Linked DNA regions of Homo sapiens. The protein of the gene in region 3 purifies or fractionates together with the protein of the main gene of each other region. This does not show direct contact. Each region holds a gene or a part of one and is shown on either strand. Other genes may lie near its edges. The genes, in order: LMBR1, ARHGEF6 and TMEM154.

What was found.
Region 1: the proteins of TMEM154 (region 3) and LMBR1 purify together in Homo sapiens (affinity purification with mass spectrometry; one large-scale study listed by BioGRID and IntAct). This does not show direct contact.
Region 2: the proteins of TMEM154 (region 3) and ARHGEF6 purify together in Homo sapiens (co-immunoprecipitation; 2 studies listed by BioGRID and IntAct, with this or other methods). This does not show direct contact.

The regions. Positions count from the first base shown.
Region 1 is NC_000007.14:156,886,665-156,890,317, forward strand, and holds part of LMBR1 (limb region 1 protein homolog), read right to left. Parts: intron 1-3,653. UniProt on the Homo sapiens protein: Putative membrane receptor.
Region 2 is NC_000023.11:136,683,305-136,686,957, reverse strand, and holds part of ARHGEF6 (rho guanine nucleotide exchange factor 6), read left to right. Parts: intron 1-1,134; coding exon 1,135-1,281; intron 1,282-3,653. UniProt on the Homo sapiens protein: Acts as a RAC1 guanine nucleotide exchange factor (GEF).
Region 3 is NC_000004.12:152,645,398-152,649,050, reverse strand, and holds part of TMEM154 (transmembrane protein 154 precursor), read left to right. Parts: intron 1-1,723; exon of another isoform or gene 1,724-1,867; intron 1,868-2,058; coding exon of another isoform or gene 2,059-2,072; exon of another isoform or gene 2,073-3,653.

The DNA.
Region 1 (3,653 bases), on a different chromosome or scaffold from region 3:
TTAATATTGCTTATCTGGAGGCCAGTGCTTGTTTAGCCGCTAGAAAAAAAGAAACACCTTGAGGCAGTTAGAACCAGTTTATTCTTTAAGGGGATGCTTTACTTAACCCTTGCCTGGCATGGCCCTACATTTTGTTCACAGTTGGGTATTTTATTGCCACAAAGAGTCTGTTCTCTCAGTCTTCAGATCTCTATTTTAACATTAATGCTGGTCAGCTGTGTTTAAACCTCAAAAGGGAGGGGGTATACTGAGGCGTGTCAGATGTCCCATCCCATTCTGGTTGGGAATTCAGTTTTTAAGGTTTCCTGGGGTCCCCTTAGCCAAGAGAGGGTATACTCAGTTAGCTGGCAGCCTTAGGATTTCATAGCTAGCTCTCAAAAGAAAGGAAATCAATCATTACTACCTGATACTAATAGCCAAAGTCAAATATGATCACTAAAGCAACTGACAAGAGAACTATGAGATATTCATAATACAAAAGACAAAATTATTACATGAGTATTTAAAAGTTAAACACTAGGCTGGGCGCGGTGGCTCACGCCTGTAATCCCAGCACTTTGGGAGGCCGAGGCGGCAGATCACGAGGTCAAGAGATTGAGACCATTCTGGCCAACATGGTGAAACCCCGTCTCTACTAAAAGTACAGAAATTAGCTGGGTGTGGTGACGCTCGCCTGTAGTCCCAGCTACTCGGGAGGCTGAGGCAGGAGAATTGCCTGAACCCGGGAGGCGGAGGTTGCAGTGAGCCTTGAGATTGTGCCACTGCACTCCAACCTGGCGACAGAGTGAGACTCCATCTCAAAAAAAAAAAAAAAAAAAAAAGTTAAACACTATATTGTACAAAAAAATTAATTCAAAATGGATCAGACCTAAACCTAAGAGCTAAAACTATACAACTCTTAGAGGAAAACCTTCATGATGCCAGTTGGTGATGATGCCAGTTGGTGATGAATTCTTGGATATGACACAAAAAAACACAGGCAACAAATGAAAAAATAGATCAATTGGACTACAAAATTAAAAACTTTTGTGCATCAAAGGACACTAGCAATAGAGTAAAAAGGCAACCCTACAGAATGGGCGAGAAGTGTTTGCAAATCACATGTCTGATAAGGGGTTAATATTCAGAATATATAAAGAACTCCTAAAACTAAACAACAAAAATCAAGCAACTCAATTCAAAAACAGGCAAAGAACAGATATTTCTCCAAAGAAGATGTCCATATAGTCAATAAGCACATGAAACAATGCTGAACTTCACTTATAATTAGGGAAATGCAAATCAAATCCAGCATCAGATACCATTTCACATCCATTTTAAAAAAAAGAAGAAAAACAGAAAACAATGTGTGTTGGTGAAGATGCGGAAGAACCAGAAACTCTGGCTCCTTGCTAGTGGGAATATAAAATGGTACAGCCTCTGTGGAAAATGGTATGGCAGTTCCTCAAAAAAATTAAACATAGAGGCCGGGCGTGGTGGCTCACGCCTGTAATCCCAGCACTTTGGGAGGCTGAGGCGGGCGAATCACGAGGTCAGGAGATCAAGACCTTCCTGGCTAACATGGTGAAACCCCGTCTCTACTAAAAATACAAAAAGTTAGCTGGGCGTGGTGGCGGGTGCCTGTAGTCCCAGCTACTCGGGAGGCTGAGGCAGGAGAATGGCATGAACCGGGGGGGCGGAGCTTGCAGTGAGCCGAGATTGAGTCACTGCACTCCAGCCTGGGAAACACAGCGAGACTCTGTCTCAAAAAAAAAAAAAAAAAAAATTAAACATAGAATTATCATATGATCCAGCAATTCTACTTCTGAATTGAAAGCAGGGACTCTAATAGATATTTGCATACCCATGATCACAGCAGCATTATTCACAATAGCCAAAAACAGAAACAACTCAGGTCAATTGATGAATGAATGGGTAAGCAAAATACAGTATACACAAAAAGAAAATATTATTCAGCCTGAACAAATTCTGGGCCAGGCACGTTGGCTCCCGCCTGTAATCCCAGCACTTTGGGAGGCCAGGGTGGGTGCATCACTTGAGGCCAGGAGTTCAAGAACAGCCTGGGCAACATAGCAAAAACCCCATCTCTACAAAAAATTAAAAAATGAGGCCAGGCACAGTGGCTCACACCTGTAATCCCAGCACTTTGGGAGGCTGAGGCAGGTGGATCACCTGGGGTCAGGAGTTCAAGACCAGCCTGGCCAACATGGTGAAACCCATCTCTACTAAAAATACAAAAATTAGCCAAGTGCGGTGGCGCATGCCTGTAATCCCAGCTACTCGGGAGGCTGAGGCAGGAGAATTGCTTGAACCAGGGAGGGAGAGGTTGCAATGAGCCGAGATCACGCCACTGCACTCTAGCCTGGGCAACAGAGAAAGACTCTGTCTCAAAAAAAAAAAAGAAAGAAAAAGAAATTTTGACACATGCTACAACACAGGTGAACTTTGAAGGCATTATGCTAAGTGAAATAAGCCAGATAGAAAAGGACAAATATTGTATGGTTCAACTGGGAATAGTCAGATTCATATAGGCAGAACCAGCAGCTGGAGAGAGTGAAGAATGGAGAGTTACTGTTTCATGGGTATCAAGTTTCAGTTGATGAAAAAGATCTGGAAATGGATAGTGGTGGTGGTTGCACAACAATGTGAATGTATTTAACGCCACTGAACTGTATATTTAGATATGGTAAATTGCATGTTATATATATATATCTTATTATGATAAAAAAGTTAAGCAATTATAGCATTATGTAGCAAAATCAGAAAGAATTGAATAATTTTAAAAATTGGCAACAGGTCTTAGAGAAAAAGTATTTACATTCACTCTAAATATAAATCATTTGAGAAAGAAATGCCAAAGACTGGGAACCCTGAGCCTGGTCACTGTCTGCGCTGGTTCTGTAGAAGATGGAGTAGACTCAACCAGCCAGGGGTACTGGGTTGAGGGAAACAGGTGAGGAGAGTCAGAACTAAAGAACTCCATAATCGGTACCAAAACCGTTTTCAGGGGAGTAGACGAAGCTCTGGACTGTTTTACAATGTGTCCCTTTCTCAACCCAAATTCTAGAATATCTAATTAATTAAAAGTAAAGCCAAAGAGCAGGAGGATCACTTGAGCCCAGGAGACAGGTCTGGGCAACACGGTGAGACCTCACCTCTACAAAAAATTAAAAGATTAGCTGGGTCTGTTAGTGCACACCTGTATGATTCAAGCCTGTAGTCCCAGCTACTTGGGAAGCTGAGGTGGGAGGATCGCCTGAGCCTTGGAAGTCAAGGCTGCAGTGAGCCATGATTGCGCCACTGCACGACAGCCTGGTCAACAGAGGGAGAACCTGTCTCAAATTTTAAAAAATAATAAAACTAAAGACAAATAGACCAATAAAACCACATAAAGTCCAAAATTAAACCCTATGAATATACAGTTACCTATCTGTGACAAAAGTCCTAAATAGTGCTGAAGCAATTGGACATTCCTGTGGGAGAAAAAAATATGACTCCTACCTTGCACCAGACACAAAAAAATAAATTCGAAATAGATTGCAAATTTAAATGAGAAGAGTAATTCAATAAAGCATTTAGAGAAAAGAAGAAGAGAACATCAGTCTTAGAGTAAGGAGAGATTTCTTAATCGGGACATTAAAAGTACTCAAAAA
Region 2 (3,653 bases), on a different chromosome or scaffold from region 3:
AGGTGCTCTTAAAATATGTGTACAGTGAATTTATTTCTTTGAGTTTCCATGTAGCTGAAAGGGACAGCAGAGATTTTATAGAAAATATAACCCCAAAATATTATCTTACATTCATTTGGAAACAGTAACAGAACTAACCATGTGCTTATTTTTGTATTCAATTTGGAAGGCATGCTGTTAAATTACTCTAAGATAACCTCACAGTTTCTTAAGCAGTGAGATATATATATATATATATATATATATATGTATATATATATGTGTATATATATATATGTGTATATATATATACACATGTGTATATATATATGTGTGTATATATATATATATATGTGTATATATATATATATATATATATATATACACACACATACACACACATATATATAGAAAGAGTATTCATACCCCACATAGTGTTGGCAAACTGTAATTTTTTCTTGGTTTGAAATTTCAGTATGTCATCATGAAATTCAGTTGTATCTCTTTTTTCCAATCCTTTTAGGAATAAAAACTAATTTAGTATTTTTTTCACAGCAATCTTGGTCCTTAAACAAAGTACAGCAGTGCCTAGGTTTCATTATAAGTTTGATTCACTGTGGCATAAAGAATTTAATTTTCTCTTTCACTATAACTCCAGGAGAAATTTTTTGTTTTTTATTATTTTCAAGATGTTACCTTGTTGAAAATTGAGCATATGTTAGAAATACAATTATTTTGTCACTAAAGCCCTATTTATGCAAAGATAGACAAGGTAAGAGGAGCTAAAGCAGGGGCACCAACCAGTAGATCTGAATCTACCAGGTCCTCACCTGGCTCTGGTCAGTGTGATTTGGCTGCTTGCTTTCCCATATTCTTTACAGGGAGGGAGAAATAAGCTCTTTCTAGCATTATGTTTTGATGCTTTGGCAAAATGAAAAATAGGCCTTCCTCACAAAACCTTTGGGGGCTCAAGCCTAGAGATTTAGGGTAGTGGATCTTTCTGTCTATCAAGAACAGGCCTGGGTCATGGGATTCATGATGAGGAATAGGGACTCAGTGGGAACCAAAGAGTCAGAAGCCACATCTTACTTTGGTCTTATTTTAGTCTATTTCATAAGAATTCCTATTCCATTATGTTCTGCTTTGGTTCTGTAGGGGCAATGTCAAGATCTGAGGAAGAGAAAACAGCTGGAGTTACAGATACTGTCCGAACCTATTCAGGCATGGGAAGGAGAAGATATTAAAAACTTGGGAAATGTGATTTTTATGTCACAAGTAATGGTGCAGTATGGAGCATGTGAGGTAAGGTATTTCAAATCTCAACATTATTTCTTCCATCTTTCGTATTTTTCTTCCTTTTTTTTTTTTTTTTTTGACGGAGTCTTGTTCTGTCACTCAGGCTGGAGTGCAGTGGTGCCATCTTGGCTCACTGCAACCTCTGCCTCCTGGGTTCAAGCAATCCTCCTGCCTGAGCCTCTTAAGTAGTTTTTCTTCCTTGTTCTTCCATCAAAGTCAAATGCTACAACATTCAAATCAGAAGCTGAGCACCTGTTCTTTGTTGAACATTCTGCTAGGTGCTGTGGGAGATAGGAGAAAAGAACAAGCAATGATCCCTGTTTTCAAAGAACTCATTAAAAACAGACTAAAACACAAGTTGCAACTAGCTGACAAACCAAATAGTCAATGTTCGATTTTGCAATCTCAACAAGAGTCCATAGAAGTTCACAGGAGGGAGAGATCAAGAAGACCTTACGGAGACAGGACTTGAGGAGGGGGCACAAAAACAAAAGGGGAGGATTTCGCAAGGCAGAGGTCATTGTTATCTTAGGAGAGAACAGAAATGTGGCTTTGGTTTGCTGCAGCACAGTAAGGAAACCAGCCTGTAGGGAGCAAAAGAAGCAACTTGGCCCTAGTAAAAGATTGATTGAGTCAGGTAGAATTAGACTATGCAGAAGCTTGACATCAGGCAAGAGTAGTTCAGATGGATGCAACAGGCCATGGGAAATAATGAAAGAGTCCACAGTCATAGAACAACACTCCGAAAGGGATGTTTCACACTAATCTGCGACCTATATATGTCAAATGAACTGGAGGGAATGGACGAGAAGCAGAAAGGCCAGCTGGGATGGAAAGTGAGAAGGAGTCCCCTAAGACGGTGGTAACACTGGGAATGGAGCAGAAGGAGCAAATTGGAGGCATCTTTAGAAGGGAAAGCCAACAGGAAGTGGTGCCCCTGGGTTAGAGGAGATGAAGAATATAATTTTAGACCTGTAGATATCTGGGTGGAGATGTCCCATAGGCAGCTGTTAATGTAGTATGGAAATGTGAGTGAGAGGTCAGAGTTAGAGGCAGAGACTTAGATGTCCCTAACAGATGTGCCTTCCTAGGAAGTAAATATCCAGAGAGAAGCCCGGGGGGTGGGGGGAGCTGAAGATGGATTATTTCTTTTAGGAAGGAGCCAGGGAAAGGGAGAAAGGTTGATTATGGCACCTGGTTTGATGTATCGGGTGTTAGAATTGTCTTCCTTCTCCCAAAACATCTTCCTACGCTCTCTGACACGTCTTTGGCGGAGATTCATTACTTTGGGTTAATAAGCAATCTCATTTAAAATGCAAATACCCCAGGGAAGGTTACTGCAGTGAGTCTAACTATTAGTCATTCACACCTTTGGGATAAACCCCTTGGGTGAAGGCAGGAGGAATCAGTGCCAGAAAAAATAAAAAGACAAAGAGGAAGGTAGAGAAGAACTGGGGGAGCATGGTGTCATGGAAATTCCACGAGGAGCATTTGAAAATGGCCAGTGTGCTGACTGCTGCTGAAGGTTCAGAGGGCAAGGAATGTGAAGACCAAGAGGAAGCCATTGGATTTTGCTAGAAGGCAGTTACTGATGACTTTCCAAGAGCAATGGGGGTGCAGTTAGGGATGGATCAATGCAGAGAAAATGAAGGCAGCAAGTAATTTGCCAATAAAATGTCAAGAAATGGGATATTATGCATAAAGGGCCACATGGGGGCAAGCCAAGGTCTGTTAGGATAGGAGGTGTACATATGTTAAAGAAAAAGAGGAACAGCTAGTAAAAGAGAAGAGGATGCTGGGAGAAGAAGAGGTGTCTGTAGAGGAAAACTAAGTGAAACAAAGATGTGAGAGAATGTGGAGCACTTGTTAGAATAGTTAGCCTGGAAGGGTTGCTCTTCTCAAATGGAAGGAAGGAGATGGAGACAGGCATAAGGATAATTGTAGCTAAGATGGCTGGGCATGGAAGGCAAACGTAATTTTTGCGTATACTAATTGCATATCTGTTGAAGGGGCTCACAGCAGCCCTCACGTTTCAAGGTTTCCTCAGTGCCATTAAAAAGTGTATGGGAGGCTGAGGTGGGTGGATCACCTGAAGTCGGGAGTTTGAGACCACCCTGACCAACATGGAGAAACCCCATCTCTACTAAAAATACAAAATTAGCCGGGAGTGGTGGCACATGTGTGTAATCCCAGCTACTTGGGAGGCTGAGGCAGGAGAATCGCTTGAACCCGGGAGGTGGAGGTTGTGGTGAGCCGAGATCGTGCCATTGCACTCCAACCTGGGCAAAAAGAGCGAAACTCCGTCTCAAGAAAAAAAAAAGAAAGTGTATCTACTTTTATGTTTTACATAAATCCAATAATTATCTTGTTCTTAATGA
Region 3 (3,653 bases):
TATTTCCTTTCATGGCAGAGGCCCATATAATAGATTCCAAAGAAGTGGGAAATACATGTTTCTCCACTGCTTGAAATTTCAGGACTTCCTAATAACATGGTCATATGGAGGCTTCTTTCTAAGCTTAAGAAAAAAAAGCAAACAGAGCTTTTTAAATTTTTTAAAATTCAGGAAAAGTCATAATTTCCTTCCCCAAACCATGACTGGTTTTACCTAATGGACTCAAGGGGTGGGGGGATGTTGGAGGTATCCACTCACATGGTGAGGCTCTTAGGCTCCAAATCCAGAAATTGATTTTTCATTGAATTTCATTGTGAAAGTCTCAAGGTTCAAAAGCCATTTACAAGCGAGAGCCAGCCTCAACCTCAGACATGGTCCATGCATCCTCCACTCTAACAACACTTGAAGTATTTGCTATTCCCAGAACTTGACTTGACTTTCAGGATGCCTCCATGCCTGGTTGATACCATTTCTTCTGTCTGGAATTTTCTTCCTGTCTGCTTGGCAAACTGCCATCCCTTTTTCCAGGGCCCAGGTCTGTTTTTGTTTTGTTTAAGAGACAGGGCCTTGCTCTGTTACCCCGGCTGGAATGCGGTGGCACAATCATAGCTCACTGCAGCCTCAAACTCCTGGGCTCAAGTGATCCTCCCACCTCAGCCTACAGAGTAGCTGGTACCACAGGCCTGTGCCACCATGCCTGAGTAGTTTTTGACATTTTTAAAAAACGTTTTGTAGAGATGGAGTCTTGCTATGTTGCTCAGGCAAGTCTCAAACTCCTAGGCTCAAGTGATCCTCCCACCTCAGCCTCCCAAAGCACTGGGATTACAGGTGTGAGCCACCACGCCCCCCTGCTAGGGCCCAGTTTTTAGGAAGCCTTGAATAATCCTCCCCTAGGAAAAATTAATTACCATCTCTTCTGTGCTCTCAGAATACTTTGTTCACACTCTTTGTTCACAGTATTCACATTGTCATAAGTTGGTGACTTGTTTCCCTTCCTTCCTTCCTTCTCTTTTTTCTTCTTTTCTTTCTGGGTGATGTGGTCGTTAAGGTCCAGGAGAACCAAGAGCTAGTCTTATTTGTCTTGTGTGACAGTGTGGCATTGAGGTTGAGAGTCCAGACTCAAACCACACACACTGCTTGGTTGGCTTGCACTTCCTGGCACCGTGACTCTCTGATTAAGTTTCTTCATCTGTAAAATGGGCAAATTCAATACCCACCTCATAGAGTTGTGAGAATTAAATGGTTTATATAGGCAAATCACTTAGAAAAAATCAGTACCTGGCATAAGTGCTAAGTGCTAGCTTATTATCATCCCTTTACCTAACTCAACGCCTAGCCCAACACACACTAGCTGCTTGTATATGTTTGTTGAATAAGTGACTTAATTAAAGAACATTAGAATGTTTATTAAAGAACATCTACGCTCAGAGGGAAAGTCAAATTTGTACATTATCCTTACTAAAAATTGGTACATTATTTTTACCTTAAATATGCCTAACTTTAAAAAAAACAACAGAGAAAACTTAGCATTTCAAAACAATTGGCTTATCACAAAAGTTTTTGATGGAGAGTTTTATTTGAATTTTTTTCTCTTATCAGCCAATGCTTTAACACAGACGTGATCACTAACTGCTTAACAGATGGACAACTTTTCAGAAAAACTGAATGCTAAAAGTTAATAAAAGCAGAATATTTACATGAGCAAAATTTGATTTTTTTTCAGGTAAAATACAACTATCATGGAAGGTCATACCAGCGTTTTGCTTGGAAAGCTCCCACAGAAATGCTTTATAGGAGAGCATGGACACCTGCACACTATGTCCCCTGGGAAGTTAGAAGCAGACATACTGTTTCTTACTGCACTTGGGTAGAGCCTGGTCTGTTATACTATACTAGGAAATAAGTCTTTAAATTTGACAATGGGAGAGGACTTGGCCAAAACTTTTAGAACACTTCATCTGATTGGAAATTACTTTTTCCTTTGGGCTTGTCCATTTCATGTTCAGGGAAAGGGAAACATGATGTAGTAACGTGATGTTCTGCTCTCATTCTTCCTAGACCTCCTGGTATGAAATTTGCAGTGTCTTGATGTGTGAGGTCTCTCTGAAAGAGCTGCAGGGAAAACAGCGGGCGATAAACTACCCCTTTAAACAGGCTGTGGCTACATGATGCCTGGCTTACTCAGTAAATCTTCTGGAAAGAGACTCTTTCTCTTGCTCACTGCTCAGCGTGGAAACAAGAAAAGGAAGCCAGAGGCTCCTGTAGCTCCTGCCCTCCCCTAGCCTCCACCAGACAACCCCACTATCGAATGCACAGAGGAGAGGATCTGAGAGGAGAGTACTGTCAGGCTAAGTGGGGGGGAAGTAGGAACTGAAGGAGGAGGACAAAGTGGGTTGGAGGAGATGAAATGGAAGGATTGTTGGAGGGAAAATGGAATAGGGGTTTGAGATGGAGCTTTGTAAGAGCTGCATTTGCCTCCTGGTTGCAAAGGGAATAGGTGGCTATTCATAAATATATATAGGCCAGGTGGAGTGGAGCGGGCAGGGCCTGATTGCTGAGGACAAGTAATTGGTCTTCCTCCTGGTTTAATGCTCTGCTCTTTGTGTGCCCTCCCAGATGTTTTTCTGTTGCCATGGTGGCTGGAGCAGAGGTAATAGCCATGGAGCAGGGAAGATGAGGCCGTAGAAAGCTTTTTGCTCTGTTTTCAAACTGATTACAGGAGCTTCACATTTGGTGCATCTGGAGCACTTTTGTGATGGCTTTTAAAAGTTTTCCTTCATCTGCTTGCAGGCTAGCTTTTGCTCACCCTGAAGCCTGTGGGGAACCCGGATTATAAAGATATATCCATGCCCACAACGGTGGGGCCATGCAGCCACTTGCTGTCTGGGAAAATAGTCAGGGGTTTATTCAGCAGGGGAAAAGGGAGAGGGAGGAGGAGGGAGTGACAAAACAGGAGGAGCTTTACGGGTCACCTGCAGGGATGTTCAATTGTGTAGGAGCTTTATTTATATTAAAATTCCTTAAGGAAATAGCCTTTATATTTTAGATAGAAAGTGTGGGTTTGTGGTGTCTGTGTGTGTGTGTGTGTGTGTGTGTGTGTGTGTGTGTGTGTGTGTATTCTCCTTTCCCCCATCTAAGTTTCTGAGGAGTCAGGCATCTGCAGGAAGCTTTAGATGCCTACTGGAGGGCAGGAGGACATAGCCTGCAGCTCCTGGAAGGCAAGCGGTGATGGCATGAAACTTACATCTGTGCCCAGCTTTCCTGGATTAGCAATGCCATTCAAGCTTGCCAACCCACAGGAAATTACAGCAGCTCACTGCTGCCAGGAACTCAGTTCCAGGTGTCTGCTGGTTGTGTTCCTTCACTGAGGACCTCCATTTCTCCAGGACAGACAATAGGAGGCCTTTAAGTGCCAAGGATCAGAAACCTCTGACTATTTGGTGGGCCCCTACAAAGTGGTTTGCTTTTCAATAGGTTTCACATGATGAATGGTGCAGCAGGCCTATGCTATCCACTCAACATCATTGCCTCATTTCTCTGGATGTGTTGGTTCTCCTGCCAAATGAAACAGGGCTTCAGCTGGGACATCAGGCTCCAATTCTCACCACTTGTTCATTTGGAGTCTGATGTGCATTACAGCCATTTTGTAAACA